Linked DNA regions of Homo sapiens: region 1 is linked to region 2. A link means that fine-mapping ties the variant in region 2 to the expression of a gene that starts in the linked region. Tissue or cell type: whole blood. Region 2 holds a variant in brackets; the other region holds the start of a gene. All regions are shown on one strand. Distances are from middle to middle.

Region 1 (15,785 bases), 73 kb before region 2:
CTCCGTCTAAAAAAAGAAAGAAAGAAGTCATAGGTACCACAACCACAACTCAATAACTCATTCCAAATCACTTCTGTTGGTGTTCTCCCTCCCATGACCTCATGACCTCACAGACAGGTAGAAGACTGTTTAATCTGTCTGTAAATTTATGCCTCTTTCAGGTCAATGATGGAAAAGTCCATCTGGGTACCTGGTGGTCGGTTGTATAATCACTAACCACGGGGTCAAAATCCTACTCACACACACTATTTCACAACGCAGACACTCCACTTCAGTTTCAGCTACTATCTGGTACATTTTATCGTATTTTACAGATTTTGTAGATCTTCTGTGACAAGAATGTCCTTCCTAATGATATGACACTACAACTCAAGAATGTTCCATCAGCAAGACCCAACTGATTGATTTCAATTCCTCCATGAACCTGATACCGAGAATGGTTACCAATTTTGAACCTTAATGGACATTTTTCACAAATAACATAACATGTATTTTATAGTCTTAATATTTTGATTGCTTGAATAGAAAAATAAGTCTCTATTTTTTATTTTTTAACTTTTCCTATGAACTAGGTACTGTGTTAAACATTTCACAAGAATCAATCTTATTTAACTATCTCATAAATCCTACTGTTTCCATTTTTCAGATGAAGAAAACAAAGCTTATGGACATTTAATAACCTGCCCAAGGCCCCACAGCTGTTAAATGACACAGTTGAGAGTTGAACACACATCTTTTTGAGGTCTTAGCTACTGTCCTAAATTCCTCCATTCTCCATAATCTTATCATAGTTCTTAAATTTGATTGTATATCAAATTTTAAAATACAGATGCCAATCCCCACAACCACCACACTTACGAATGAGAACTTCTGTGGGTAAGTCTCAATCATACATATTTTTAAAGGGCTCCTCAGATTCACAAAGTATCTGCAAAATCTGTAATCTAAAAAGGACTAACATTCAAAATATAAAATGAATACTTACAAATCAAATAGAAAAGAATAAACAACCTGGGCCAGACACAGTGGCTCACGCCTGTGAGCTGTAAGCGCTGTAATCCTAGCACTTTGATGGACAGATCACTTTAGGTCAGGGGTTCAAGACCAGCCTGGCCAACAGGCTGAAACCCCATCTCTACTAAAAATACAAAAATTAGCTGGGCATGGTGGCATGTGCCTGTAATTCCAGCTAGCTGAAACATGAGAACCACTTGAACCAGGGAGGAGGTTGCAGTGAGCCAAGATTGTGCCACTGCCCTCCAGCCTGGGTGACACAGCAAGACTCCATCTCAAAAAAAAAAGGCCAGGCACGGTCTTAAATAAAAAAAAATAATAATAATAAACAACCCTGTAGAAAAATAGGCAAAAGAAATAATCAGTCTGTTCCCAAAAGGGAAACTCAAATAGCCAATAAACATGTAAAAAACATGTAAATTGATAGCCAATATCACTGTTATACAAGGAAATAGAAAATATCTTTTTTTTTTTTAACTTATCACAGTGGCAAACCCTTTAAAAATGCTTTGGCTGATAAGGGGAGGTGGGTACTCACCACTGCTGGTGGGAATGTAAACTGATAAAAAACCTTTGTGGAGAGCAATGTGAGTACTATTAAAATTTAAATATACAAACCATTCAGCCCAGCGATTCAATTTTTAGAAATTTATCTTAAAAATACATTCACATATTCTTTGCAATAGGCTCTAAAAAATGAGAAATTACCTAAATATCCATCCATACAGCGGTATTTCACAGAGCAATTAAAAAGGAGACAGCTCTAAACGTATGACACAAAATGCTCTAAGATATATGATCCAAGTGAAAACTGTAGGGTACAAAACTCTGTGTGAAATACACTAGCATACAGTAATATGCTTATATATGCTCGATAACTCTGGAAGTTTACAGAAGACACCAGTCACAGCGATTGACGCTGGGGAAGGCAACTGCACAGATGGGGAATAGAGGGTTTCTTTTTTGCTCACGCATCTTTTTTCTATGAAAAACACTGAGGTAAACCTCTATGTGCTAACACAGGATGATCCCCAAGACATAGAGGTGAGCAGAGGAAAAAAGTATAATGTAAATTGTACAATGTGATATATATATAGATATATATGTGTACATACATATGTACACATGCATATACTGCATACACCAGACACGCATATACTGCGTACACCAGACACGCATATTCTGCGTATGCCGGACACGCGTATACTGCGTACGCCGCACACGCGTATACTGTATACACTAGACATATATGTAAATGCGTTGAGTAAGAACCAGAGGAAAAAAAACCAAACTGATTACATGGGTTGTTACCTCAAGAGAAAACACTAGAATGGCAGAATGGGTGGATTCTCCAGGAGTTTTTCACATGATCTTTGTTGTTTGACTATTTTTAGCATGGGAATAAAATCATATATTACTTGTATAATTAATTAATTTTTTTTTCTTTAGAGACAGGATCTCACTCTGTCACCCAGGCTGGAGTGCAGTGGTGTGATCATAGCTCACTGTAACCTCAAACTCCTGGGCTCAAGTGATCCTCCCACCCTGGCCTCCCAAGTAGCTGGGACTACAGGTATGTGCCACTATACCGGACTAACTTCTTACTTTTTATAGAGAAAAGGTGTCACTATGTTGCCCAGGCTGTTCTCCGACTCTTGGCCTAAAGTGATCCTCCCACCTCTGCCTCTCAAAGTGCTGTGATTACAGGCGTGAGCCACCATGTCCACCCCATGCTTGTATAATTAATTTTTGATAATTTTGATGTATACCAGAATTAAGAACCACTGTTCTATCAGACTTAATATTCTAAGCACCAAAGCTGTTTCACATATTTTTTACAATCTCGCAGGTCATAGTGCAGTGCCTTCTATTAATGGGAGTTTCTGTTTTTAATGAATAAATAGGTGAAAGAAATGCCTCCACTTATACCACCTCTACTGCCATCAGCAGGCCTCATACCAGTACTTCTTCACCACCTGACGGGTTCTAAACAACTCTTGGACTTGATGTGCCATGTCCTTGTCCCAAGCCAACACCATTACACCTGTGGTTTCCTTGTCCAGCCGGTGGCACAGATGCAAGGGCTCTGCCTTGTGGCCATGAAGCATCTTTGCCAGGATAGGTAGTACATCAGTGATGCAGAGCTGGACCCCAGGGCCACCTAAGAAGGAAAAAGCCAAAGGTTTGAGCGGCCAGGAAAAGATCTCGCCAAAGAACTCTCCTTGGGAGAAAAGCCCTTAATGGATAAACTGTCAATATTTTCTAGAGCCTTACTACTGAAGTGTGGTCCAGAGACTAGCAACAATGGCATGTCTAGGGAGCTTATTAGAAGTGAATCTCAGGCTCTCAACCTAGACTACTCAGTCAGAATCTGCATTTTACAAGCTGCCCAAGTGATTCAGAAGCATATTAAAGTTTGAGAAACACCATTCTAGAGCATGTGGCTTCCTCTCAGACATACTTTGAAAAACCATGAGGCCTTCGAGAAGCATTAAATAAGAGTGATTAGGAGGATAGACTTCGGGGTTAGACATTCCTGGGGTTCTACTCTACTCTTCTTACTAGCCATTTTTTTGACCTTGGACACATTACTTCTCTTTCCAACTTTGCTTTCTCGTTATAAAATGTAAATATCTGGAAAACAACTTCATTGGGGAATGGAAAGGCAAAAAACTGTTGCGAAAATAAAGAGAGAAAAAAATTATACAAACACTTGGTGATGTGATTTAATTCCTTGTCTTTGTGAACAACTATCTCCGTATCTCCCCAAAAAGCATTACCTTCTTCTAGCTAAAATGGGCCTTTTCCCTCTTTCACAAATGCATTTTTTAAATCAATCTTTCCTGATTCACTTCAGCTGTCCCTGACAACTACATGCAACATCTGTTGAAAGACATTTGAAGGTCCACTAAATTCCAGTCACTCTGGGGTTGTATGTTACATATACTCCAACATACATACACACACACACACACACACACACACACACCCCCTTTTTTCTTATGTATCATTTTCTCATTCCCAGTTCTGATGGAAGATAACCTTTAGTCTAGAACCACACAGCCTTTGTATATCTCTACAGCGATCCCTGTAGTCTGCACACAGCGTATTCTACGAATTGCTTACTGTCAGATGTTTAGAAAGGGAGGACTGTCTTATTTATTTATTTCTGTGTTCTCGGTGGTTCCTTATATTGGACGGTAGTTTACAAAAGTTTAATTAATTTGAATGCAAGGCTTTAGAGTGCACCACAAGTAACGTCTCAGTTTTCCTCGGTTGTAGCAGAAAGCAGCTGCAGGTTCCTCCACCTTTCCCGCGTGGTCCTTACCATGCACAGGGAGACCGTAGGGCTTATTGATGACCACAAGGTTCTTGTCCTGGTGGAGAATTCCTCGGGTCAGTGCCTTAGCAAGCACGTTGGGGTGGACTCGCTGCAGCTGCCGTGTGAACCGCACTATTTCTTGCACTCTCCGCTGAACAGCGTTTGTGGACACCTAGGGAGAAAGAAGGAGCCGTGGGGAATGCCTGGTGCGGAAGCCGTGGAGAAGACCTTCCATAAAGGTCTGGGTGAGAATCTGAGTAGGGAATGACTATCTTTGCATCAGACCCGCGCCGCCTTCGACTAATTTGAGAGCAGAGATACCCATCTGTCTAACCTGCGTACCGACGCAGTGGTTAGGACTGAGCCTGACAGTAGCCAAAGATCCAGCTCACGGGAAAACACCGTACCCTTACTGACCCCTCCCCTCCGCCTTCTCCCCATTCTCCCACCTTGCGTCCGGGCTATTGACTCACACGCTTTCACTCAGAGGACCCTCCTACCTACTCCCCGTCTGGGAAACCAATGAGCGCACTGCCTCTAGGGAGTTCTGGTCCCTTTGGACTCACCGGCTCCTTCTTTGTGTCTTGTTCCCGTTTCTGGGCTCGGAGCTTCTCCGCTAATCTCTGGGCATTTATGGCCGTAGAGGCAGCGGCAGCGGCACAAAATGGCTTTGAGACGAGAGTGAAGAGACTCCCGCAACCTTGGCCGTTTCCCCGGATCCAGGGGCCCGACGCGCTCCACCTGGGCGCCGCCATCTTACAAGGAAGGGCGGGGCGAGCCAAGACCACGTGGAGAAGGGCGACTACAATGAGGCGGGAGTGGGTGGGCCCTGCAGGTCACGTGGTGCGGGGTGGGGCCTGGGCGAGTCACGTGGGGACGGTGCGCGCTCAGTGCGGCTGCGCCGGCCGGTAGCTGCAGCTGGAGCAGTGGCGTTTGGAGGAGACTCGGTGAGTGTGTAGGGAAGCCGGGCTGGGGCTGGGAAATGCCGGTGCCTCAACGGTTTAACGTTTTCTGCGTCCCCGGGATTTCCGTTCAAGAAGAGCACTGGTCTGAGAAACGTTTCTCCTTTTGGTACACGATCCCACTCAAAAACTCCTCCCCGCCCCCGCGCCCCCTTAGGAGCGATGTCCCATAAACGCTCGCCCCAGAGCCCTCCTAGGCACCGACGCCGTCCCTCTTAGCCACTGAATCTCCGGTGATCCGCCAGTCCCCTGCGGGACGCGTCGGGGACCCTCTTGATCGGATGCCCGGATCTCTGTAGTCTCTCCACCCTTCATCTTCCAACTCCCAGCCTCTTTGTTTCGCGTTGTAACCTGTACCCTTCTCCTAAGGATGACGGCCCCTTCCCTTATCCAGGGCCCCCAGCACCTATTTCCTACTTAGGAAGCACTGTGAGTGTTTTTTCTGCCCTTCCTCAAGAATTCATTTCTTGGGGGTCTCCTCCCTACCTTCCCTACTCCTCCTAAAGAAAAAGCTGAAAGAACGGAGCACAGACCTTCACTTTTCCTGTTTCCTTTATTTTTCCTCTCCATAGTTTGCAACCACACCATACCTCCTCTCACGAGATGCGATGTTGGGATTCCCTTGCCCGAACTGCAGGCGACTCCCTCTGATTTCACTCAGGGGTGGCTGGGAAGATAAACATCTGTTTGGGATGGTAGTGTTAAAAATAACTTGGGATATACCTGCCATTTGTTAAGAGGAAAGCTTATGCTGAGTTCAGAAAGAATGTCCTGAAAACTAATGGATCTGTGACGATAGAAGGAACAATTTTTTAAGACTGCTTGGAATGAAGGCTGCCTGAGGAGTTATTAGAGAATAGGTAGTTGAATTAGATTTGGGTTCTACACCTCCTAAAGGGTTTGGCAGAAGGGAGCCGTACCAACAAGAAACAAAGTTGATCAGGTGGAGCTACTCATAGAAGACTCAAGTTGAAGAGTTTGAACTAGAGGTGATACGTAGTGAGGAGTCTTTGAAGCTTTTCGAGTAGGGCAGAGAGACTCCTTGAAAGTGGAATTCTGGAAATGAATCTGGCAGTTGAATGCAGGACAGATGGGGAAGGAAAGGGTTTGATAGTGGGGAAGGAAAGGGTTTGATAGTAGGAAAACTAGTTACAATCTAGGTGGTCAGTGATGAGGTCTGGTCTTTTCCCCCTACACTGTAACTCCTTTGAGTTTGAATTAATTGAGTTATGCAGGTCAAGGCGTACTCTTGGCAGCTGCTGTTGATCTGTGAGTCCCTGGAAGAATTTTTTTTTTTAATCCACTCACCTGGCACATAGTAAACTCGATATCTGTTAGATGGCTGAAGTGCATCATAAATGTATGCTAGGTGTGTCTGAACATTTTGAATTGTCTTATTTCTGTCAATGTTTGGCCTGAAGAATGAAGGTAGAGGAAGATGTATTTGTAAAGTGGGAAAGAAGCAAGGCTTGTGTACGTTTCTCTTATAAGGCAGGTGTAAATGCAGATCCAGATACAAATGCAAAGATTTCCAAGGGAGATTGGGAAACATCTGTTTCTCCTGTTCCCCACCCACCCCCTGCAAATTTACCAGTAAGACAGAGGTCTATAAAAGTTGAGAAATTCCACCCTAAAAGAATTATTACCTTCCATGCTCCAGACCTAGGTTCTAATTTCACTTGAACATCACATATTACTTAGATACTTGAAGCTCAATTTTCCAAGGACCCTGAAGTTTTGACATCGGGACTTAAATTCATATCATTACATTAATTAAAAACTTGTTTTGGGTACAGGACTTTTATGGTTTTGTGTCGGGGATGGGAGAGGCTGTTTCTACCCTAACCTTATGGCATTCAAGAAACTACACCTGTTCTTGCAGAGTTGGCCTTCTGTGGCGGGAAACAAAATGAAGAACCAACTCAAATGTCATTGCTAGTGACACAGAGCTTATGCTCTAGGGTTTCAGGTTAACTCAAAGCACACACTTAGTGACTTAAGAATAAAAATATTGGTCCCTTTTTTCTGGAGAAGGAACTTTTAGGTTTGTCTTGTTGAAACTTTGTAGAGAAATTTAAAGAATTCAAAGTTTTTGTTTGGTATGACAGTGCAGCTTTAGCCAGTATGGGTACATAAGTTATGACATCCTTAATGTTTCTCCGGTGAGTCTAGGCACTTGGTGATTTAAAGTAGAGTTGTTCTCAGTATAAAGAATTTATGTGGCCGGGCGCGGTGGCCCACGCCTGTAATCCCAGCACTTTGGGAGGCTGAGGCGGGCAGATCACGAGGTCAGGAGATCGAGACCATCCTGGCTAACATGGTGAAACCCCCGTCTCTACTAAAAATACAAAAAAAAAATTAGCCAGGCGCGGTGGCAGGCGCCTGTAATCCCAGCTACTCGGGAGGCTGAGGCGGGAGAATGGCGTGAACCCGGGAGGCGGAGCTTGCAGTGAGCCGAGATCGCATCACTGCACTCCAGTCTGGGCAACACAGCAAGACTCCATCTCAAAAAAAAAAAAAAGAATTTATGCAAATGTCATGTCTTTTTTTTTTTTTTTTTTCCAATTTTCAAAGAGCAATAATCACCCCTCAGATAAACCTCATTGGCTGCAATACTGCCACTGCAAAAAACTCTTTTGTTTCTGTTTTTTTTTTTTGTTTTTTTTTTGTTTTTTTTTTTTTACCTCTATATTGCCTCCTCCCTGTTCCTCATTCAGCTGGTCCTTTTTTAGGCAGTTCACTTTTCCACTTCTGCGCCAATGTCACAGTCCATTTGTTGGGAACTCCTCTTGTCTAAATGTTTTCTTAGAACAAGGAAGGAAATTCTATTAGTGATTTCTTCATTCTTGCAGACTACGGCTCTGTTCAAACATGACTTATTTACATTGATTTTGATATATCATAATATGTGCCCCTAAAGTAACCATATAAAGAAGAACTTGATAGTTTCTTTTTAAAGATATTTCCTAGTCTATTCAGGAACAAAAAGGCTGCATTAGTATTTCGCAAATATAAACAAACAAGGACTAACTAATAAAGGAACTTGCGTTTATCACAAATTTAAGGTTAATTAGTGGTATAAAGTTAAGTTACGCCTCCTCAAACTGTGATTTGCTAGTTGCAGATTAACCAGCGATTCCATTTCCTTGAAGAGCAGGAAGTACTTGGACATTGTTTTATGGTTTTAGAGAGATTAAAGGAGGCAATTAGCAGGAACTCTTGGGAGGTGCCCTGGAAAGTACAGTCATTGGGAGCCAGGAGATGTGGGACTAGTTCCAGTTCAGCCGCTGCGTACTTGAACAAATAATTTGGGCTTCAGTTTTTTGTCATTTGAAAGATTTTTGCAACTCTGTTTCTAGTCTATGAAGATTTTCCACTGATACTGAAATACTTCTCTTTCAGCCCGAATTAGTGGGATTTATTTCAGATTTATCTTGAATACATTTAGCATTGATACTAAGAAACTGGATTCTGCTCTTGTCCCCAGAATTTAACTTTTTGCCACTGAGCTAATGTTTATGTTTGGAGGTTACTTCATTGAGTGGTGTTGGAATATACTTTTAAGATTTCTGGCCAGGCGCGGTGGCTTACGCCTGTAACCCTAGCACTTTGGGAGGCCGAGGTGGGCGGATCACGAGATCAGGAGATGGAGAGCATCCTGGCTAACACGGTGAAACCCTGTCTCTACTAAAAATACAAAAATTAGCTGGGCGTGGTGGCAGGCACCTGTAGTCCCAGCTACTCGGGAGGCTGAGGCAGGAGAGTGGCGTGAACCCAGGAGGCAGAGCTTGCAGTGAGCCAAGATCGCGCCACTGCATTCCAGCCTGGGTGAAAGTATGAGACTCCGTCTCAAAAAAAAAAAAAAAAAAAATGTCCTAAATGGGGGTGGGGTGCATGGCTCACACCTTAATCCCAGCACTTTGGGAGGCCTAGCGGGGAGGATCTTTTGAGCCTAGGAGTTTGAGATCGCCTGGGCAACATAGCAAGACCTCGTCTCTACAGAAAATCACAAAATTAGCTGGGCATGGTGACGCACCTATGGTCCTAACTAACCCTTGAGGCTGAGGTGGGAGGATCATTTGAGCCCGGGAATTCAAGGCTGCAGCTGCAGTGAACCATGATTGCAGTACTGCACTCCAGCCTGGGTGACAGAGACAGACCCATCTCAAAAAAGAAAAAGTAATTTGTGTAATACAGTTTAAAAGTCAAATAGTAATAAAAGATTTGGAATTAAAAAACAGTTTCTCAGGCCAGGTCCAGTGGCTCATACCTGTAATCCCAGCACTTTGGGAGGCTGAGGCAGGTGGATTGCCTGAGGTCAGGAGTTCAAGACCAGCCTGGCCAACATGGTGAAACCCAATCTCTACTAAAAATACTAAAATTAGCTGAGCATGGTGGTGTGTGCCTGTAATCCCAGCTACTTGGGAGGCTGAGGTAGGAGAATCGCTGGAACTGGAGAGATGGAGGTTGCGGTGAGTCGAGGTCGCACCATTGCACTCCAGCCTAGGTGACAGAGCGAGACTCTGTCACCAAAAAAAAACCCAACAAAACAAAAACCGTTTCTCTGCCCTCCCTACCTCAAAGTCCCATTCTTTAGAGGCAACCACTCAGTTGTTTTCCTCTTTTCCTCTGTCTTTACAGTAAGTGGTCAACACCATCAGTATTCTTGAAACATGATATAACAAAACCAGTTTTACCATATGGTTTCTATGGCGTTTTTCTGGTCACAAAAACATACCCAATTTCTAAATAAAGACCCAAACATTTCTAATATGAAACACTGAAACAAGTAAGATTTTCACCCACTTTTTGGTGAGTCAGTGAGTTACTGCAGTCATAGTGGTGGTGGGTTAAATCAAGGAATAAATGTGTGCAAAGTGAAAATTGTCAGAAGCATTTCCTACCACCATACTCATTTCCAAAGCAATCAATCACCAATAGGGCAGGCTCACTGAGAGCTATTGTACCACATCATTTATTGTTGTGCATTTGGATGATTACCATAGACTTTGCAGATTTTTATTTGCTGGTAATTTGTATTCATTCATTTATTTTCCAGCTTAGGCTCACAGGTGGCTGGAGCCTATGCTGGCAGCTCAGGGCACAAGGCAGGCGCCAGCCCTGGACAGGACGCTGTCTATGCCATAGGGTGTGCATGCACACACACACAAACACAGGGACCATCTAGACACACCAGCTAACCTAGCAGGCACATCTTTGAGACGTGGGAGGAAAGCAGAATACCTGGAGAAAACCCACACAGACATGGGGAGCATGCCAACTCCACACAAACGGGTAGCCTCAGCCAGGAATCACTTATTCTCTCATCAATGTTATGAAAAAACGATGTTGAACAAAAAGACTTTTTTTGAGAGTCTGCTGTATCTTCTTGTTGCTAAATAGTTGGTTTGTTATTCTTTCTTGGTTTTCCCCTCATGTTTGGCCTGTTGATTTCTTGTTGTGATAGATTTGTATTTAGCTCTTGCATCCCACCACTTTCCTATTTTTCCATGCCCTCTATCCCCTAATATAGTTCTATTGTAATTTTTTGCTAAAACAGGTAGCTTTTATGTACTTACACCTCTGTCAAATACTGTTCACTGTTGAGCTGGATGATCTATTACAGTGTGTTCCTCCTGGTGTGTAGGTTGGCCTTCACCTGTGTTTTTCATGTACCTACTGTTAATTTTTTTCCCACATGCTCCAATGTATTTGTCACATTCTTATCAGTAACATTTTCTGTGAGCTCAAATGTATCACCTGTTTATTGGAGCCCTGCCCCCTCCTCCTGCCTTTACTGTTGCTCTCAAGAACTGCTGCCTGGGGTCCTCCTGGACCTGCCCTTTCCTGTGCAGGAACCGTATCTTCCTCTTTCTGGGCTTATGTCTTTATTTTTTAAAAGCATATACTTCAGTTATTTCTAAGAAGTATTTGAATGACCTGGTTTTGCCCACACACTTGTTTGATAGTTTGGCAGTTATATAATTCTAGATTGGAAATAAGGTTCTCTCAGAATGTTGAAGGCATCTGTAATTGCTCTAGAGATGTGGTGATTTAAATCCTTCTTACGTGACCGTATTTTGTTTGTTTTCTCCCCTTCTGGAAGCTTTGAGGATATTCTCTATCTCTGGTGTTCTGCAGTTTTATGATGTGTATTAACACCAGGGTATGGGTCTTTTACTCAGCTGTTGTGCTGGCTTCTCACAGACGGTTTTGATTCTGGAAATTCACGTCCTCTAGTTCCGGGATGTTTTCTTGTACTATTTCTGTGATTTTTTGCTCAATCTTTAATTTTTCTTTGATACCTTTTTGTAATATCCATTCTTGTTATGTGGATATGGTGGGCTCAGAGGGCCCGCTGGAGTATTTGAGTTTTCTTCCTCTCTGCACAGGCTCCACTTCCTTCAGGTGATGTGGGCCTTTGCACCTGTGCCTCTGTCTGGATGTGTCTTCCCTCAGATATCCAGCGACTTGCTCCCACACCTCACTTTGGATGAATCCACAAGTCTTTCCTTAAATGTCACCTCAGTGAAGAGAGCACTGGATTGAGAAGTGCAGACCCCCATCTCACTTCCCTGCTTTGTTTCTCTCCAGAAGCATTTCCCACCATCTAGCATCCCACATATTTATTTACTTGTTTCCCTCACCACTAAAATAAACATTCTATGAGGGCAGGGATTTTGGGTTTTTTTTTGTTTACCTCTATAATTCCAGCCTCTGAAACAGTGCCTGGCGATGAATAGATGCTTAATAACTTAAGGAATAAATGAATTATTTTATTGTGGGATTTCTTTGAATGTCTCATGATTCTGACTGTTCATTTCTGTTTTGTTTTTTGTTATTTTAAGTTCCCAGCGTGGGTCTTGTTGGGTGGTGGCCATTACTATAGGGTGGCTGGTATATATGGATTTTGTGTGTATGTTTGTACAAATGTATATGTTTGCTAATATTTCTTTAGCTGACAGTGCATTGGTTGCTGGGACAAGGATGGAGGCTTGGAGAACCTTTTAGTATGCATCTTTTGACATAATCTGTATTTTCAGTTCTTCATTGCTCCTGCTGATGTATTTTACTCCAGACCCATTTCAGATTTCGGTTCATTTTTCTTTAAACCTCTGGATTTGGGGGTGGAGAAAATAGATGAAAATAGGAGGTGAGGAAGAGAATTTGCGCATTAGTTAAATAGACTTTATGCCAATCCGTATTTTCAGATCTGCATTTAAAGCTTGCTTTCCATCTCCAAAAATTCATTGAAAAATTGAATGCTTATCTCCTGCACCTCACATTCTTGGTTTTATACCTTGAAAAAAGAAAAACTCCTCTGTTGCCATTTTAATAGCGTACTTTGAAAAAGATTAAGAAGTAAACACGTAAGGACAGAAGTTATCATGTTTTATATTCTTAGTGTCATGGAATGCAGCACAGGAATATCACATAAGGAAAAGCACAGATTTCTTGTTTTCCTCGTTTATTTTGGAAGCTTATCCTTCAGCTCTTGTTTATCTTTTTTTTTTTTTTTTTTTTTTTTTTTTTTTTTTTTTTTTGAGAGTCTCTCTCTGTTGCCCAGACTGGAGTGGGCATGATCATGACTCACTGCAGCCTCGACCTCCTGGGTTCAAGCAATCCTCCCACCTCAGCCTCCCAAGTAGCTGGGACCATAGGCATATGCCACCACATCTGGCTAAGTTTTTTATTTTTGTAGAGACAGGGTCTCCCTATTGTTTATATGCCTTAAGAGTCAAATTAACAGAGTACATAAGAAACACTCTCTTTTTAGCTCTCTTGCTAAGGAGCAGGTTTGAGATCTGTTGCCAGAACTTAGTACTTCGCAGTTTTATGGATTCCTCAGGAGTCTCGTCCATGGGGCTGGGGCGTGGCTACCCTCTGCTGACTCTTCCTAGGTTCCTGCTCTTCCCCAGCACCTCCCTACCCCCAGCCACTAGAAATAGACTGCTTCTTTCTTTCTTCTACTGCAGAAAACATGCACTACTGTACTTATTAAAATTAACTTAAAAAAAAAAAAAAAGCAGCTCGAGCTGCTTGAGTTTTTTTTTTAAGTTAATTTTAATAAGACATTGAAGGAAGAATTTTTTTTAAAGGGGGGGCTTATATGTATGGAGATTTATGGTGTGAAAGCAGGGGCAAACTCTAATGAATGAAGTTTTTAGAATTGATATGAACATGAACCCAAGATACTCAGACTTATTCCGAGAGTTCCTCTTAAAAACTGCTTTTCTCCACATAAATCCGAATGTCAGCAGTGGTTAGCTCCACGTTGGAGGAAGGGGGGCTTCATTTTGCTCTTTCTGCATATTTCCTGCAGTGATCTGTTACTTTCAAATCTGGGGGAAAGGTGCTCTCTTTTTCTGAATGAAGTCTCCACCTGCCTCCCTTGGGCCCAGGCTGCCCAGCTTTCTGGCTGCTCCCTGAGAGTCCTCCTTGGTCTTCCACTGACCTCCTTCACTTCCTTATGAAAGTATGTTTTTAGTCTCCCTAACCTGCTTTCTGTTTTCTCTCTCTCTCTTTTTTTTTTAATACCCTCAATTGTTTTCACTGGCCACTTTTTTTTTAAGACTGATGCTTGGCTGGGCTTGGTGGCCCATGCCTGTAATCCCAACACTTTGGGAGGCCAGGGCAAGAGGATTGCTTGACAAGGCCAGGAGTTCAAGATCAGCCTGGTCAACATAGCAAGAGCCCATCTCTACAACAAAATTTAAAAATTAGCCAGGTGTGGTGGTGCGCACCTGTAGTCCCAGCTGCTTAGGAGGCTGAGATAGGAGGATCCCTTGAGCCCCAGAGTTTGATGCTGCAGTGAACCATGATCTTGCCGTCCTGGGGAACAGAGCAAGACTGTCTCAAACAAAAAAGACTGATGCTACCTGCTTGGCAAAACCATGTTTTTAGAGCTATTTCTCCTAAGAAACCTGGTCTTTGTAGTTGTTCTGATGGCTTCTGTGACAAATAATGCCTTTTTTTTTTTAAGAGCTTTCAGATTCTTATTTCAGATCTAAACAGTGCTTTTCAGCTCTCAGTTCATCTTCAGATCAAAGAGAATAGTAGGCCGGGCGCAGTGGCTCATGCCTGTAATCCCACCACTTTGAGAGGCCAAGGCATGTGGATCGCTTGAGGCCAGGAGTTTGAAACCAGCCTGGCCAACATAGTGAAACCCTGTCTTTACTAAAAATACAAAAATTAGCCAAACATGGTGGCGTGGGCCTGTAATCCCAGCTACTTGGGAGCCTGAGGCAGGAGAATAGCTTGAACCCGGGAGGCAGAGGCTGCAGTGAGCTGAGATCAAGCCACTGCACTCCAGCCTGGGTGACAGAGTAAGACTCCATCTCAAAGAAAAACAATATTAATTTTTGGCTAATTTTTATTAGGAAAAAGAGAATATCCTGAAAAGAATATCATGCTAGTTTAAGGTTACAGATTTACTTTCTTCCCTGGGTTCCCTTTGGTTCATATTCTCTTGTTTAGAAATGATCCAAATACATTATTCTGAAGTATATGACAGTTTTTCCAAAATCAGTAAATACATATGTTGGTGCTTAAAACAGAAAGAAAGAAATAATGGCCTATAAATATTATCACATAGCTTATTTCTACTATTCAGAGATCTGTATAACTTAGGATAAGGAGCAGGTTGTTGAACGGTTTTTTGGTTTTTAAGTTTGAAGTACAGTCTGAAAGTACCTTTCAATATTGAAGGGCTGCCTGACTGAAACTTACATGGCTATCTCCTGGGCCTGAAGCACCACCGAGATCTGAACTGAAGGTAGCGTTTTGGGAGTCCTTAGCGTTTAGTTGGTATTTTAATATCTAGGGGTGAATGGGGTGGGAAGGGAAGGGAGTATGTAAAGGGAATAGACTGGAGAGCCCTGCGGATCCTCAGCATTTAGGAAACAGGGAAGACCTCCCACTAGAGGGGAGGGAGGAAAACCAGGAAAAGGCAAGATGGACTTCAGTGTTGGGTGTTTCAGGAGGCAGAGGAGGATAAACACCAACAATTTCATTGAATTTTGCCATAAGGGTATTTATCTCCCATAAAGCTTTCCTTGATTTTCCTCAAGCAGAAGTGCTCATCTCCTTGGTACCTCATCCAGGCATGTGAAACTTGGCACAAACATGTTGTAAAGGTTTGTTTATAGTTCTGTTTCTCCAAAGGTGTAGACTTGTTAAGAGTGTGGCCCACGGCTTGTTCGTTTTTGTGAGATGGTATTGTTTTGTGTCTTAACAACATGAACACTGACTCCATGTCTAATGTGTAATAGTCGTGTGACCTTTAACAAGCTGCTTAACATCTGTGTGCTTCTGTTTCATTGTCTATACCATTTATGATATGAGATGATAATAGCATCTACCTCACAGAAGAGCAGATATTTGTGAAGTGTGGAAAACAGTGCCTGGCTTACTGTCAATGCTATGTAGTGTTTGGTGGAGGAGAACTGGATGCAGCAATACTAATATTCTTAGCACAGTGCTGGATG
Region 2 (15,785 bases):
AGCTATCACAACATATCCTAGACTGGGTAATTTATAAATAATAGAGATGTATTGCTCACAGTTCTAGACACTGGGAAGTCCAAGATCAAGGCACCAGCAGATTCAATGTCTAGTAAAGGCCTGCTTTCTGCTTCGAAGATGGTGCTTTCTCACTGCATCCTCACATGGCAGAAGGGGTAAGGCAACTTCTTTCAACCTCTTCTAAGAACACTCGTCCCTTTCATGAGGGTAGAGTCCACATGACTTAATCACGTCCCCAAAAGCCCCGCCTCTTAACACTATCACATTGGGTATCAGGTTCCAACATAGGACTTTAGGGAGGACACCAACATTCAGACCACAGCAGGATTCAGTGTGACTGTTTCTGCCTGGATCGTGGAGTGCGAGAAGAGGAACTAGAGCCACTGAGGGGTTTTAAACAGGAGCAACACGATCGGATTTTCCTTTTAGAAGAATCACCTGGGTGACCCTGTGGAGAGCAGATGAGGATGTCAAGGCAGGCAGCAAGGAGGCCAGATGGAGGCTGTGGTTGCAGTCTGTGTGGCAGGGACAGGGAGTGCCTGAACCATCATGGCAAGAATCAGATGGATCCCAGGGTGACGCCAGCAACAAGAAGTGGGTTAAGTCGCATGGCCAGGTTTCTGGATGGAGGTTCTACCCCTCCCAGAGATGAGGAGCACCAGGGAGGAGCGGAGTGAGGGACAGAGTGAATGGTGCAGTCTGGGATGTGGTGAATGAGGGTACCTGTAGGACATCCCTCAAATAGGGGGTTGGGCTGATTGGCATGGTCCTTGGGGGATGATCTGGGCTGTAGATAGTGATGTGGACATCATGGAACAGGATGGCATCACCCCAGAGGGTAGAGTAGGGGGCCAAGGAGGGAAGCTGGAGGGACCCCACCAACATTTAAGGGACAGACCAGAGAAGGGGACACTGAAGAGGTGCCCACAGAGACAGGAGAAAAGCCAGGAGAGTGTGGTGTCGTGAAGCTAAGGAGGAAGTGATCACGGTGCCTGCTGGATTCGGTCCCAAGTAGGTCAGTGGTGGCCTCACTCGAGAAGAGCAGTTTCAGTGGAATTTAAGGTCTGGACACTTGCACAGGAGAAGTGAATGGGAATAGAAACAGCTGGTAAACTGCCCACTCCGCCTTGAAAGTGGCCTTTGGGATCGGGCGCGGTGGCTCACAGTTGTAATCCCAGGACTCTGGGAGGCCGAGGTGGGAAGATCGCTTGAGCCTACGAGTTCGAGACCAGCTTGGGCAACATGGCAAAATCCTGTCTCTACAAAAAATACAAAAATTAGCCAAGCGTGGTGGCATGCACCTGTAGTCCCAGCTATTAATACGTGGGAGGCTGAGGCAGGAGGATCACTTGAGCCTTGGAGGTTGAGGCTGCAGTGAGCTGTGAGGCACCACTGCACTCCAGCCTGGGTGAAGGAGTAAGACCCTATCTCAAAAACAAAAAACGACAACAGAAAAAGTGGCCTTTGTGGAGAAGGATGAAAGGGAGGGAAGAAATGATGGAGGTGGGCTTTACTAATGGCAGGGGAGGAGATGTGCTACCAGTGAGGTAACAGCAGAAGCCCCTGAGGTTGGGGTGAGGGGGCCAGGCCTAAGGCGGAAGCCAGAAGAGGAAGAAGGCGGTGCTGAAAGACAGGAAGGAACTTGCCAGGGATACGCAGGAGGGACAAGCTGACATCCGGGTTGACCCTGTGAAGTTCCCCTAGGTGCCAGCCAGTTGCTCCCTTCAGCACGGACATTCCAATCTCAGGGCAAAAGGGAAAAGGCCTTCAAGTGTTTCTCACCCAGAAGCTGCTCCCTTCCACACACTGAGTACTATGTTTATTAAGAAGCACTGAGGCCTGTAATCCCAGCACTTTGGGAGGCGGAGGTGGGCAGATCACCTCAGGTCAGGAGTTCGAGACCAGCCTGACCAACACGGAGAACTCCTGTCTCTAGTAAAAATACAAAATTAGCCGGGCATGGTGGCGTGTGCCTGTAATTCCAGCTACTCAGGAGGCAGAGGCAGGAGAATTGCTTGAACCCTGGAGGCGGAGGTTGCAGTGAGCTGAGATTGCGCCATTGCACTCCAGCCTGGGCAACAAGAGTGAAACTCCATCTCAAAAAAAAAAAAAAAGCACTGAGCAACTCTCCTGTCCTCCCACAGGGCTGTACTTCAAGCTGTGGGCAAGCCCTTACCATCGCCTCCGTGCATCTGTCTTCCCCCCTGAGCTGTGCAGAGCTGGGACCAAGCCTTCTTCATCCTTGCCTGACACTCAGCTGCCCCAACACTTGGCCCATACTTGGCGCCGTCAAGGCCTGTTTATCTGAGTGTTCCTCGAGTGTCCTTCTGCTCTGGCTGGAGCCTGAAGAACCATCCCTGGCCTCGGGGAATTTTTACTCTAAAGTGGGAGATAAGCAGCAGAGCACAGGCTCTTTACAATGAAAAGCACTATGGCCTTTGAGGGATGGAGGTGGGAAGGGCTGGGTTAAGCAAAGCTTTCCTGAATAAGCTGCAAAAATGGGCCTTGATCCCTTTGTAGCTCATAAGCAAGATGACTGGGTGTTCACGCACATGTGTGAGGTGTGCCTCCCTTAAACCTTGTTAAGGGTTGTTACCCGTGTGATGGGAAAAAAAAGAAAAAGGAAACAAAAAAACCCCAAAAATAGGCCTTGCTAGAAGAAGGGCGTTTTGCAGAGCGGAGCTGGGGAAAAGGAGGGCCCTGGGCGGAGGTGTACTTGGTAGAGTCAGGTAGAGTCAAAGCAAACTGGGCATTTGGGTGCAGTGCCAAGTGCCTGATCTACTTTATGTAGACTAATCCTTGCAAGAACACCAGCAACCAGATACCATAATGTGATGAAGGAAGCAAGCCTAGAAAAGTTGCGTGACTTCACCAAGGCCACACAACTAGTAAGCGATGAGCGCTGGTTGTGAACCCAGGCAGTTGACTCCAGAGCCCTCCCAGGATGGGCAGCTCATCCGCTTTGGCGGGCTGGTGAGAAAAGGAGGAAATCAAATTGGAGGGGGAGATCATGAATCTTACATGGCCTAATTAAACTACCTCCACTCTCCAGCATTTCGTGCACATAGTTTTAGGATAGGGTTTCCCAAACTGGCATGGCCTGGAGCAAGACGCTCAGGAAGACATTCACATTTCTTGTAGAGTGAAACAAGTGTGGGGAATGCTCCGTTCCCTTCTCCCCAAGGTGCTTCACAGCGCTCACGAACATCTGAAGAGCTCTCAGAAGTGGGAGGCAAAGGCATCTCTTTCACCCAGGACTTCCAGCATCTTGCCTACACCACGCTGTTTGCAGCGGCTCTGCAGCATACTGCAGCGCTGTTCATAACGCCCATGTGGGATCACCGCTTAGAGAAGCAAAGAAAGCACTTTGGCAGAAGACGGGGTTTCCACCCTCCTCGGCATCAACCAGTGTCTGGGACGGGAACTGGCGGCCGCTGCGGCCTGGCTTCCCAGCTGCCGCCCGGGTCTGCCCCTCCCACACTGCAGCCCCGTACACCCCTCGCTGTGTGTGACCTTTGGAAAAGTTCCATCTCTCCAAGCTTCATGTTTCTCATTTGTATAAAAGGAAAAAGGTATGAACACCCCCCTTGCAGGGTGTTAGGAAGATTAAATGGGCGGAATAGGGTGTTTTTTTTTCCTTCTCCCCCGCCTAGAACAAAACCCAGGTTTCAGGTTGTCACGGTGGGCGCCGGGGGACCCTGGCCACGGGCTCCTCTCCGAGTTGCTGCGGACCGCCCCAACGCAAGCGGAGAGGACGGGAGCCCGGAGTCATGCAGAAGCCAGGCTGGCAGGGGCTCGGGCCGCAGTGGACACAGGGGCTGCCCCGTCCCGCGTCTCCCGCAGCCGGATTGTGCCCGAGAGTCTCCCGGGTCTGGACTGGGCCTGGCGGCGTGGGAGGGGCAGTGCGGCGGGCGGCGCTTCCGGAGAGCGGGGCCTGCGCGCTGCTCTTCCCCGCGGAGCCCGCGCAGTCCGCGCAGCCCTCATCGCAACTGGGCCCGCGCGCAGGTGAGCCCGGGGCGGGGTCGCGGGGGACCGGGAGGCGCGGCGGGGCTCCGTGGGGTGGGCGACGGAGCGCGGCCGGCCTGGGCCCCAGAGTCCCGGCCCCACCGAGAGCCGCAGGGGTGCGCGCCGCCTCTGGTCCGGCCTTGCCCTGCTGGCGGCACATCCGCTTCCCTTCTTCACCTTTCTGGCACCCGCAACACGCAAGCGGCATGAAAGGGCCCTCCGAGGAGAATGTCACCTTTTCTGTCGCAAAGAAGCTCGCGCGGGGCGGCTCCCCTTTCGCTTGCCTCGCTGGAAGAGCCTGGCGCTCAGTGCGTTGTGGATATCGTTTCTCCTCACGTTCTTCTCTGCTCCGGTCACAGCCTCTTCCTCTGCTCTTCGGGTTGTCATTGTGGCAGTGATTCAGCAAGTGCATAACATTAGTTAGGGTCAGGGACCTATCGAGGCATTACACCACAGTCATGGGCAGCTACACACGGGCTGGGCAGCCACTGTGCCAACGACTAGGGTGACCGCGGTGGACCAGACAGATCCAGTCTTCTGGTCCCCAGGGGACAGACAGGTACGCTAGAATCACAGCATACCCTAGAAGTGCAACAGAGAGGGGGAAGTGTGGAGAACTCCCGTTGAAACACCAAACCTAGGGGACACCAGGATCAGGAATGACTCAGAGGGAACCACATCTAGTTAGTTTTTAGATTTAAAAGAGTTGATACGTAGGCACACAAATCCTAAGTGTACAGCTCAACCATTTTCCACAACACGCACATTTCCTGATTCAGAGCAATCAATAAAACATGACTACATCCCTGGCTTCTAACGCCATAAAATAGGTTTGCCTGTTTTGGATTTTCCATCCATGGAATCATATATCATGTACTTCTTTTTTTTTTTTTTTTTTTTGAGATGGAGTTTCGCCTTTGTCCTCTGGGCTGGAGTGCAGTGGCGCAATCTCGGTTCACTGCAGCCTCCGCCTTGTGGGTTCAAGCGATTCTCCTGCCTCCTCCCGAGTAGCTGGGATTACAGGCGCCTGCCACCACGCCCGGCTAATTGTTGCATTTTCAGTAGCGACGGGGTTTCGCCATATTGGCCAGGGTGGTCTCGAACTCCTGAACTCAGGTGATCCGCCTGCCTCAGCCTTCCAGAGTGCTGGGATTACAGGCGTGAACCACTGCGCCCAGCCCTTCATGTACTCTTACGTGTGTGACGTCTGACATTCAGTATGTTTTGTGATATTCACCCATGTTTAGTTAGCAGTTTATTCTTGTTGGTATATAATATTCCATTGTATGGCTAGACCACAATTTATTTATCCATTCTACTGGACACGGGTTGATGGACAGTCGTTTCCACTGTGGGGTTATTTTGTATCTTGCTGCTACAGACATTCTTGTGAATGTCTTTTGGTAAACATCTGTAAGCAGGCGGGGAACAGTGGCTCACACCTGTAATCCCAGCACTTTGGGAGGCTGAGGCAGGCAGATTACGAGGTCAGGAGTTCGAGACCAGCCTAGTCAATATGGTGAAACCCCGTCTCTACTAAAAATACAAAAATCAGCCAGGCGTGATGGCGGGTGTCGGTAGTCCCAGCTATTTGGGAGGTTGAGGCAGGAGAATCGCTTGAACGTGGGAGGCAGAGGTTGCAGGGAGCCGAGATTATGCCACTGCACTCCAGCCCGGGCGACAGAGGGAGACTCCGTCTCAAAAAAAAAAAAAAAAATATGTAAGCACTGCTGTTTGAGTATATTCGTAGGACTGAAATTGCTGATGTGTGTATGCTCATCTTAGTCTATGGCCAAACACTTCTCCACCGGCAGTGTTCGAGTTCCCATCCCTGCACACTCTTACCACTACTTGATAGTCTTTTTCTCTGTAGCCATTTGGCTGAGTGCCCAGCAGTGATGCATTGAGGTTTTAGTTTGCATTTCTCTGATGACTAATGAACTGTTTTGATGTCTATTGCTCATTTGAATATTCCTTTTGTGAAGTGCCTGCTCAATTCTTCTGCTCATTTTTCTGTCGTCTTACTAGTTCCATTGAGTCCTTGAAATATTTGTGATATAAGACATTTATTGGATATATGTGTGTGTGTGTATATATATATATATATAATATATATTTTATTTGATTTTTGAGACGGAGTCTCTGTCACCCAGGCTGCAGTGCAATGGCGCAGTCTCAGCTCACTGCAACCTCCGTCTCCCAGGTTCAAGCGATTCTCCTGCTTTAGCCTCCCGAGTAGCTGGGATTACAGGCACCTGCCACCACACCCAGCTAATTTTTGTATTTTTAGTAGAGATGGGGTTTCACCATGTTGGCCAGGCTGATCTTGAACTCCTGACCTAGTTATCCGCCCGCCTCGGCCTCCCAAAGTGCCGGGATTACAGGTGTGAGCCACTGTGCCCAGCCCTGGATATATATTTTTAAACATTTTAACCCTCGGGAGATTGCCTTTTCACTCTCCTATTTATGTCTTTTGATGAACAGAAGTTCTTCATTCTAATGTTTTTTATTTTATCATTTTTTCCCCTTATAGTTGTATTATTTGAGTCTGGTTTTTAAAAAATCTTCCCTAGCAAGAAGACTCAGATAAAAGTAAAATTAAAGCTGGGCATGGTGGCTCATGCCTGTAATCCCAGCACTTTGGGAGGCTGAGGTGGGCGGATCACTTGAGGCCACGAGTTAGGAGACCAGCTTGGCCAACAAAGCAAGATCCTGTCTGTACCAAGAAAAATTAAAAAATGAAAAAAATAAATTAGGTAGGTGTGGTGGCTCACGTCTTTAATTCCAGCTACTCTAGAGGTTGAGATGGAAGACTGCTTGAGCCTTGGAGGTTGAGGCTGCAGTGAGCTGTAATCACAACACTGCACTCCAGCCTGGGTGACAGAGCAAGACCCTCTCTGGAAAAAAAAAAAAAAAAAAAAAAAAGGTCGGGTGTGGTGGCTCATGCCTGTATGTAATCCCAGCACTTTGGGAGGTTGAGGTGGGCCAATCACTTGAGGTCATGAGTTCCAGACCAGCCTGGTCAACATGGTAAAACCTCGTGTCTACTAAAAATACAAAAATTAGCTGGATGTGGTGGCGAGCACCTGTAGTCCCAGCTACTCAGGAGGCTGAGGCACAAGAATCACTTGAACCCAGGAGGCAGAGGTTGCAGTGAGCTGAGATTGTGCCACTGCACTCCAGCCTGGGTAATGGAATGAGTCTGTCTGAAAAAAAAAGAAAGTCATGGGTCCTTCTCACAGTCCCAGGTGTGAACACAGGGGGCCACCCTAGGTCTGCACCATAGTCTACAAACCTCTTTGAGAACACTGTGTTGTGTCTATCAAGCTATAAATGAATTATATTCAGGACTTTAAGTGACATTGTCCTGCAAACCATAATTAATCCTACCCAAACGTTTTAGCAAGTGTTTGAGAACAAAACAGCCTTTGAAACCAAAATTCTTTTAAATGTAAAGTCAAAGTCAGGTGAAGTATAGATGGTAATTTATTTATTTAAAGATGTAAAAACTGTTTCAAACAATTTGAACCTTTAAACAGACCAGGTTTTAGCACTCAACTGAAATCCAATACTTTCTCCATTCATTGGCCTGATCTAATCAGACACAGTGTAGTAGTTTCCTATTGCTGCTGTAACAAATTGCCACAAACTTAGTGGCCTCAAACAACACACATTGATTATCCTGCCGTTCTAAGATGGGTCAGCAAGGCCGTGCTCCTTCTGAAGGCTCCAGGAAAGAACCCATGGACTTGCCTTTTCCAGCTTCTAGAGGCCACCTGCATCCCACTGCCGCCTGCTTCCCTTGGCACAGCTCTTTCGTCTGCCTCAGACCTTCCTGCCTCCCTCTTGAAAGGATCTTTGTGGTTACATTAAACTCACCTGGGTAATCCAGGAATCCCTCCCCATCACAAGGTTCTTAATCACAGCTGC[C/T]GAATCCCCTTTTGCCACGGAAGGTAACATATTCTCAGTTCCGGGGATTAGGATGTGGGCCTCTTTGTGGGCCACTATTCTGTCTACCCCAGATAGTGATTCCTGCTTAACAGAAATCGAATATGAACTCTAAGAGATACATATTCTAATTATATGCCTTCACAGGCTCCAGTACATTCCCTATATAATAGAAATTGGAGACCAGTTTGATATTGGATACTAAATACACTTTGGATTTTTTTTTTTTTATTTTTGAGACTTGAGTCTTGCTCTGTTGCCCAGGCTGGAGTGCAGTGGCATGATCTCGGCTCACTGCAACCTCCACCTCCCGGGTTCAAGTGATTCTCCTGCCTCAGCCTCCTGAGCAGCTGGGATTACAGGCACGCACCACCACGCTTAGCTAATTTTTGTATTTTTAGTAGAGACAGGGTTTCACCATGTTGGCCAGGCTGATCTCAAATTCCTGACCTCATGATCCGCCCACCTCGGCCTCCCAAAGTGCTGGGATTACAGGCATGAGCCACTGTGCCCAGCCCACTTTGGATTTTATACAGCAAAACTCCATAATGTTTCCTTTACATCAGTTTCTGCACATAATATTGGAAAAGCATTCTAGAAAGCACTAAAGGTATTGTGCTACTTCTTTTCTGAAGAAATTCTTTACTAATTTTCTTTTCTTTATTTTTTTGAGATCGAGTCTCGCTCTGTCACCCAGGCTGGAGCACAGTGGTGCAATCTCGGCTCACTGCAACCTCTGCCTCCCAGGTTCAAGGGATTATCCAGCCTCAGCCACCCAAGTAGCTAGGATTACAGGTGTGCGACACCATGCCTGGCTAATTTTTGTATTTTTAGTAGAGACAGGGTTTCGACCTGTCGGCCAGGCTGGTCTTGAACTCCTGAGCTCACATGATCTGCCCACCTCGGCCTCCCAAAGTGCTGGGATTACAGGGGAGCACCAGCACACCCGGCTAAATTTTGTATTTTTAGTAGAGAAGGGGTTTTGACAGGCTGGTCTGGAACTCCTGAGCTCACATGATCTGCCCACCTCGGCCTCCCAAAGTGCTGGGATTACAGGCATGAGCCACTGAGCCCGTTCCCTTTACTAATTTTCTATCAAGTCATAGTTCTTACAAAGTGGGTATTTTTGGTATGATTCTACTTTATGAATTTTTTCAAAGCACAAAGAAAGCGACTGCGTATTAGACCACACAGCAAATCAGAGAATAGGCAGAGCTAGTGAGTAGAGCTTCCAGTTGGAGATTTGGGTTCATTACCTTACCTACTTGTCAACCACATCTCAAGATATGATGACAGTTACCAGGTCTTGGAAAGATTAACACGTGTTTGAATATGTGACAGTTCCACAGCTCCAGCTACAAAAGAACTGAAAAGGAACAGGGAAGGTGCATGGCGTCTTGGATTCCAGGAAGTAGGCAGTGTGTATGGTTACTGGAATTTACCTGCCATCTTGCTCAATTATCCTGTCAAAGGTGCTGTTATTTTTCTCTTTAAAACGTTTCCATGTTTCTCATGAGGGCTTATACCACCGCACTTCTGGTGGCATATACTGCTGGACAACTGGATTTCTTCTTAACCAAGCAATGGAAAAGCAATTTCCCCCAATTAGCATGCGTTGCCAAAAGGGCAAGTCATTTCATAAAATGAGAAACTGAAACTTTAAAATCTACATATATTAAGTAGATTAACATATTATGTTAATTTTTAACCTTTAGAATATTTACAAATCAAATGATGCTCTAGTTTACAAGTGCACCAAGGCCAAATAATTAATATTAAAATTAAAACAGAATTGAAAAAATATTTAAAAAATGCAAAAACCAAGTGACATCATGTTTACTACTGGGGGCAAAAAGGCATCCTGAACGGCCCTAGCTGCAGCCTACCACTTAGGCTGTCTGAAATCCCAAGCATATTAGGAAAGAAAAGAAACTCATATACATACTCATAGTCAACGTCCAGTGCCGTTTTGGTGGCTTCACATTTAGCTGTGTTGCTTTTTCAGATGTCTTCTCTGGTTCCTGTACCCATTCCAACCCTTTGCTCTGCCTCCTTTGCTGCTATGGTTTAAGTTCTACTTCTTTTTTGAACTTTGATATATGATCACAAATCCTCAGCATCCCTTGTCTTCTACGCATCAGTGAACAAAGCATTAATGTGCAGCATAGAATGACATTCTTTAATTTTTTTTATTGAGATGGAGTTTCGCTCTTGTTGCCCAGGCTGGAGTGCAGTGGTATAATCTCAGCTCACTGCAACCTCCGCCTCCAGGTTCAAGAGATTCTTCTGCCTCAGCCTCCCAAGTAGCTGGGATTATAGGCGCCTGCCACCATGCCCAGCTAATTTTTGTATTTTCAGTAGAGACAGGGGTTTTACCATGTTGGCCAGGCTAGGCTTGAACTCCTGACTTCAGGTGATCCGCCGCCTTGGCCTCCCAAAATGCTAGGATTACAGGCGTGAGCCATTGTGCCTGGCCACATTCTTTAAATTTTGAAACCTTTTATTTTAGTGTGTCTAATAATACTTGCTTCCATGAGTTCTCAGGTTTGTTTTGATCTCACAGATCCACCAAAGAGAAAGCAGCCCTGTGCCAGTTGCTCTGCCAGCCTTTCACAGGAGAAGTGTCACTAGAATACTACAGCCCCCACAGGCTCTGCTCCACAGAAACTTAAGGCTGAAAGAGTGTCCGCCATCAGGGACATCCTCTGTCACTACGGTGGGAAAAGAACATGGCAGGTTGCCTTTCTAAGGGATTCTTGGGCCTTTGTATTTCCATATAAATTTAGAAGCAGTCTGACAACCTCCCCACCAAAAAACCTAAAAAACAAAAATCTTCTAGACTTTGGAACAGCACTGAATTAATGATCAGTTTGGGAAACGTTAACATTACAAGTTTAATAAACCATGAACATAATATACCCCTCCAATATCTAGATTATTTTATATACATAGTAGCCCACATTTTCTAAGCATTTATTACATGCCAGGCACCATTAGGACTTTACATAAATGATTTCATTTAATCTTCACAATAATGCTGAGAAGGAGGCTCTAGTACTTCCATTTCACGGATGGAGAAACGAGTTTAGCAAGGTGGCCAAAGGTCACGGTTAACCAGAGATGAGAATCAGGCACTCTACCTGCAGTCTGCAGTCTGTACCACTTTTTGACATGACCTTCCTGAGCTGACGGCTGCAGGGGCGATGGGTCTATGGATGGAGTTATTCAGGGGGAGGCAGACTTGGAGGAAAAGTCTCCCAAGATTTCCTGCATGTGCTCTCTCTCTACTGTTCAGCTTCTGTCTATCTGGATACATAATTATTTGTCCAAATAGCAACTGTCCTTCTTCTGCCATTTCAGGCCTTACATAGGAAGTCCTTCTAAAGAGCTGCCTGCCAGCTGCCCTTCCCCAGATCCCGAATATCCTCCTGGCCAGGTGGAGCAGAGAACAGTTCCTCAGCTGGTCATGCTGAGCTCATACCCTGTAAGTCTGACCACACTACACAGCTTTGGCTTTATCTAGAATCCAGCTCCAATCACAGTCGTGTCTGGCCCTAATCTCATGAGGAATGAAAGACCCATTTAGAGAAGAAGCCTCTGTCAGGCATTAGGAGAGAAACAGAACTTCGCAGAGCTCATCCATGGGGAATGAGAGCAGGGTAAGTGCAGCCTTTGTGATTCTCTCTCTCTACCCTCTGTAGGATGGCTGCTCCATGAGGTCAAGACTGGGTCTCCTCCCTCCTCCCCCTTCACCAATGCCTGGTCTCACGGGGCTAGTTTTGACCCCCACGCTATGGCATCATCGACCTCCCTCCCAGCTCCTGGCTCTCGGCCTAAGAAGCCTCTAGGCAAGATGGCTGGTGAGTGGAACCGGACTCGCGACTCTGCTGTGTTCCTGAGTGTAGTGCTCAGCCTCCATAGGGCGCGGTGGGAGGCCTGCCTGGTCCAAACTCAGAGAGACGCAGGAAGGCTGACGTGGGGAACTCCTGACCTGAATTCAGGGCCTGGATGCTTTGTGGAGAGTGAGGAGGGGAGGCCTGCGTCAGCTCAGCCAGATCTTTATCCTTTTGGCTCAAAGGTTTTCCAGGCCTGCTCAGCTAGCTTTCCTAGCCTGGAAACCACTGTGCTGAGTGCTTAACACTGTCTCTTGTCGTCCAAATCTTTGTTCCAGAACCATTTAGAGGAGAAGCCAAGCAGAGAGAGAAAATGAATCAATCCCCACCACAACTATCTGTCCTTATCAAAGGCTGGGGAAGCTGTTTTCATCTCCTTATGGAGTCCCATACTCCAAACACAGACCTGAGCAGTGTTTCTCCCCCACAGACTGGTTCAGGCAGACCCTGCTGAAGAAGCCCAAGAAGAGGCCCGGCTCCCTGACATACCTGACACTGCATTATCTCAGTTAACTTTCAGCAACTAAGACAGGTCCACAAGTCCACAGTCAAAGCCGTGTCCCTGACTCCAGAGTGTGGGTTCTGAATCACGAAGCTCTCTGCTCCTCAGCAACTCTGAGCAGTAGCCTCTTCCCCATTTAGCGACAATCTAGGATTTCTTGGGGCCAAACAGATGCCAGTCCTCCGTACCCCTTCCTTCCTGTATACGTAGCCCTTCCTAATCTAAGTCCACCTCCCCTCAGTGCTGAAAGTGGGCTTTGGGACTGATGGATCCTTGCTAGCATAACGTAGCTCTGCCTGCAGACTCCCGGTGGTTGACTAGTCAGCTCTAGTGGGAAGTTCTGCTTAAGGTGGGCTGGGCTGGGGGTACCAGATATCAAAGGGCCTGGAGTAGTGCAAGGCCATTTCTCTTAACCAGGCTGGTGGAACACTCTCACATAAGGATTCCAGAGTTCTGACACGTCCAAAACCTTTACCTTTAGAGGGCACTTTTAGGCAAGTCCCAAAAGATAAACAAAAATAGCAGAGTGCTGGGCACAGTGGCTCACGCCTGTAATCCCAGCACTTTGGGAGGCTGAGGCGGGCAGATCATGAGGTCAGAAGTTCAAGACCAGCCTGACCAACATGGTGAAACCCCGTCTCTACTAAAAATACAAAAATTAGCCAGGTGTGGTGGTGCATGCCTGTAATCCCAGCTACTCAGGAGGCTGAGGCAGGAGAATCGCTTGAACCTGGGAGGCAGAAGTTGCAGTGAGCCAAGATCGCACCACTGTACTCCAGCCTGGGTGAGAGTGAGACTCTGCCTCAAAAAAAAAAAAAAAAAATAGTGGAGCAACAGGTCTCTGAGAATAAGATGTTTCCCAGTGCAGGGAGGTGGGCTGCAGTCTGTCTGTCCTCCCTGTGAGGTGGGGCTCCTCCCTGTGTGGGCAGTGAGAGGGCACCTGGTAACACACAGGCCTGAGCAGTGTTTCTCCCCCACAGACTGGTTCAGGCAGACCCTGCTGAAGAAGCCCAAGAAGAGGCCCAACTCCCCAGAAAGCACCTCCAGCGATGCTTCACAGCCTACCTCACAGGACAGCCCACTACCCCCAAGCCTCAGCTCAGTCACGTCTCCCAGCCTGCCACCCACACATGCGAGTGACAGTGGCAGTAGTCGCTGGAGCAAAGACTATGACGTCTGCGTGTGCCACAGTGAGGAAGACCTGGTGGCCGCCCAGGACCTGGTCTCCTACTTGGAAGGCAGCACTGCCAGCCTGCGCTGCTTCCTGCAACTCCGGGATGCAACCCCAGGCGGCGCTATAGTGTCCGAGCTGTGCCAGGCACTGAGCAGTAGTCACTGCCGGGTGCTGCTCATCACGCCGGGCTTCCTTCAGGACCCCTGGTGCAAGTACCAGATGCTGCAGGCCCTGACCGAGGCTCCAGGGGCCGAGGGCTGCACCATCCCCCTGCTGTCGGGCCTCAGCAGAGCTGCCTACCCACCTGAGCTCCGATTCATGTACTACGTCGATGGCAGGGGCCCTGATGGTGGCTTTCGTCAAGTCAAAGAAGCTGTCATGCGTTGTAAGCTACTACAGGAGGGAGAAGGGGAACGGGATTCAGCTACAGTATCTGATCTACTTTGACTTTTAGGAGACAGCCCTGTAGCCTAGTAGTTCAAAGCGCAGCTTCTGGAAAAGGCTGTCGGGGTTTGTATCCTGGCTCCTGCACTTATTAACCCATAAAAAGTAACTTGGCCAAGTTACTCACCCGCTCTGTGCCTTGGTTTCCTCACTGACCAACAGGTTTCCATTGCTATGAAATGAGAACAGTATATACACGAAGGGCTCAGAACATGGCCTAGCACATGTATTCATAACAGGCAGCGCCTAGCACAAATCAGGTCCTCAAGTTAATAGCTAGTAGTAGTAACAGTAATAGCATTAGGTTTCTCTGAGATCAGGCTGGAGATGTCCATCAAGAGCTGGGAAGGTGCCAGGAGGGACATTGGTTTAGTAAGGCAAAATGATGCAAAATAATAGGAAAGAAGTGCATATAAGTGTATCTGGGGAGGGCCATGCTATTGCAGTAGGTTTGGAAGTGTAATAGATAAAAAGATAGAAGAGGCAGGACCTGTTGGGGAAAACAGATGCTGGGTTTGGGAGGTGTGACAACGCTGTGATTGGTCTCTTTCAGATCTGCAGACACTCAGTTGACACTTGTTATATCATGGGACCCCGGAAATTGGAGTGAAGCTAGAAACAGAAAACCCATGCAGGGCCTCGGATTCCCACAAATGTGACAAGAGGTATAGGGAGTGAGTCACAGCGCTTTGCTCGTGACCCTGGGATCAGAGCACCCATCAGGCTTCCATTACTGTGGGCTCCCTAAGAAGACCATGGAGAGCTTGGGGACTCCCCCAGGAAGGCCGTGAAGCTGGGGATTCCCCCTAGGAAAGCCATGAGGAAGCTGGGGACTCCCCAAGAAGGCCATGAGGAAGCCAGAAATTGGAGGTGGTAGGAAGTGGTACTGATCAATGATGGCCAGCAGGACTCATCTCCTGCCTAACTGGACAGGAAGCCTGGCACCCACTTCTGTCTTCCCCTGGAACTGGGCACTGGCGTACACTGGTATCCCTCCTAAAGAAGTGACTCACCTGACTGATCAGCAAGAAGCCTAGATTGCAGGCCTCACCATGGATGGTCTTCCTAGTTGCCTGGGGAAACCCTGGAATGGGCATCAGGAGAAAGCAACAAGAATCCAGTCCTTCACACTCACACTACTCTGTTCCTCTTCCCAGAGACATCGATTCACTTCAAAGAGCTGTAGGGAAGATGCAGTCAGCACTGCACTGTATTTTTTATTTATTGCCTAGGTGCCATTAAAGACACAAACCTAGAAGCCTAGAGGCCATTCTGAATATGGGGGTGGGGTGGTGGAGGGAGCAAGTGAAGAGATGGGAATCCAGGGCTCAGGGTTCAATGCCTTCACCTGAGATCACAAGCCCATGGATGCTGTGACATCTGGGAGCTTCATCAGTGGTCTGGCTAAAGCTGATACTTTCACAGTCACCATCTTCACCTTTGGACTGGGAAGAATCACCATTTTTCTTCTGGCAGATGACTGTATTCCTTATAGGACAGGCAAGGTTTCATTCATCTGTTCTCAGTAAGTTTGTTGTTGAACTGAAATGAATTTCATTATTTCCTCCAATGTGTACTTTTGTGCCCCCCTCTCACTTCTCCCTATCATGACCCCTCTTTTGCTGAAAAAAATTTTTATTATTTTTTCTATCTCTAGTTCTAGAAAGAGAAAATTTATTTTTTAAATTATAAACTATTTTGCCAGGCGCCATGGCTCACACCTGTAATCTCAGCACTTTGGGAGGCCGAGGCAGGTGGATCACCTGAGGTCAGGAGTTCAAGACTAGCCTGGCCAATA

The links.
Region 1: RPUSD4 starts here. The variant in region 2 is fine-mapped to the expression of RPUSD4 in whole blood (INTERVAL, PIP 0.91).

What each region holds. Positions count from the first base shown.
Region 1 is chr11:126,206,548-126,222,332 of GRCh38, forward strand. It overlaps RPUSD4 (RNA pseudouridine synthase D4), which reads right to left and starts at 5,103. Exons shown (of 7, transcript NM_032795.3): 1 at 4,903-5,103; 2 at 4,343-4,508; 3 at 2,974-3,175. The coding sequence starts at 5,091. FAM118B (family with sequence similarity 118 member B) reads left to right here and starts at 5,235. Exons shown (of 9, transcript NM_024556.4): 1 at 5,235-5,283. It also overlaps the pseudogene RNU4-86P. RefSeq lists an enhancer at 4,888-5,117.
Region 2 is chr11:126,279,128-126,294,912 of GRCh38, forward strand. TIRAP (TIR domain containing adaptor protein) reads left to right here and starts at 3,966. Exons shown (of 5, transcript NM_001318777.2): 1 at 3,966-4,026; 2 at 11,335-11,458; 3 at 11,676-11,834; 4 at 13,350-13,928; 5 at 14,541-15,785. The coding sequence starts at 11,768. The coding sequence ends at 14,560. TIRAP-AS1 (TIRAP antisense RNA 1) reads right to left here. Exons shown (of 2, transcript NR_187388.1): 2 at 15,169-15,467. It also overlaps the pseudogene LOC124902838. RefSeq lists enhancers at 3,705-4,512, 5,981-6,060, 13,681-14,185 and a silencer at 3,729-4,138. The variant C/T (reference allele first, on the strand shown) is at 7,957.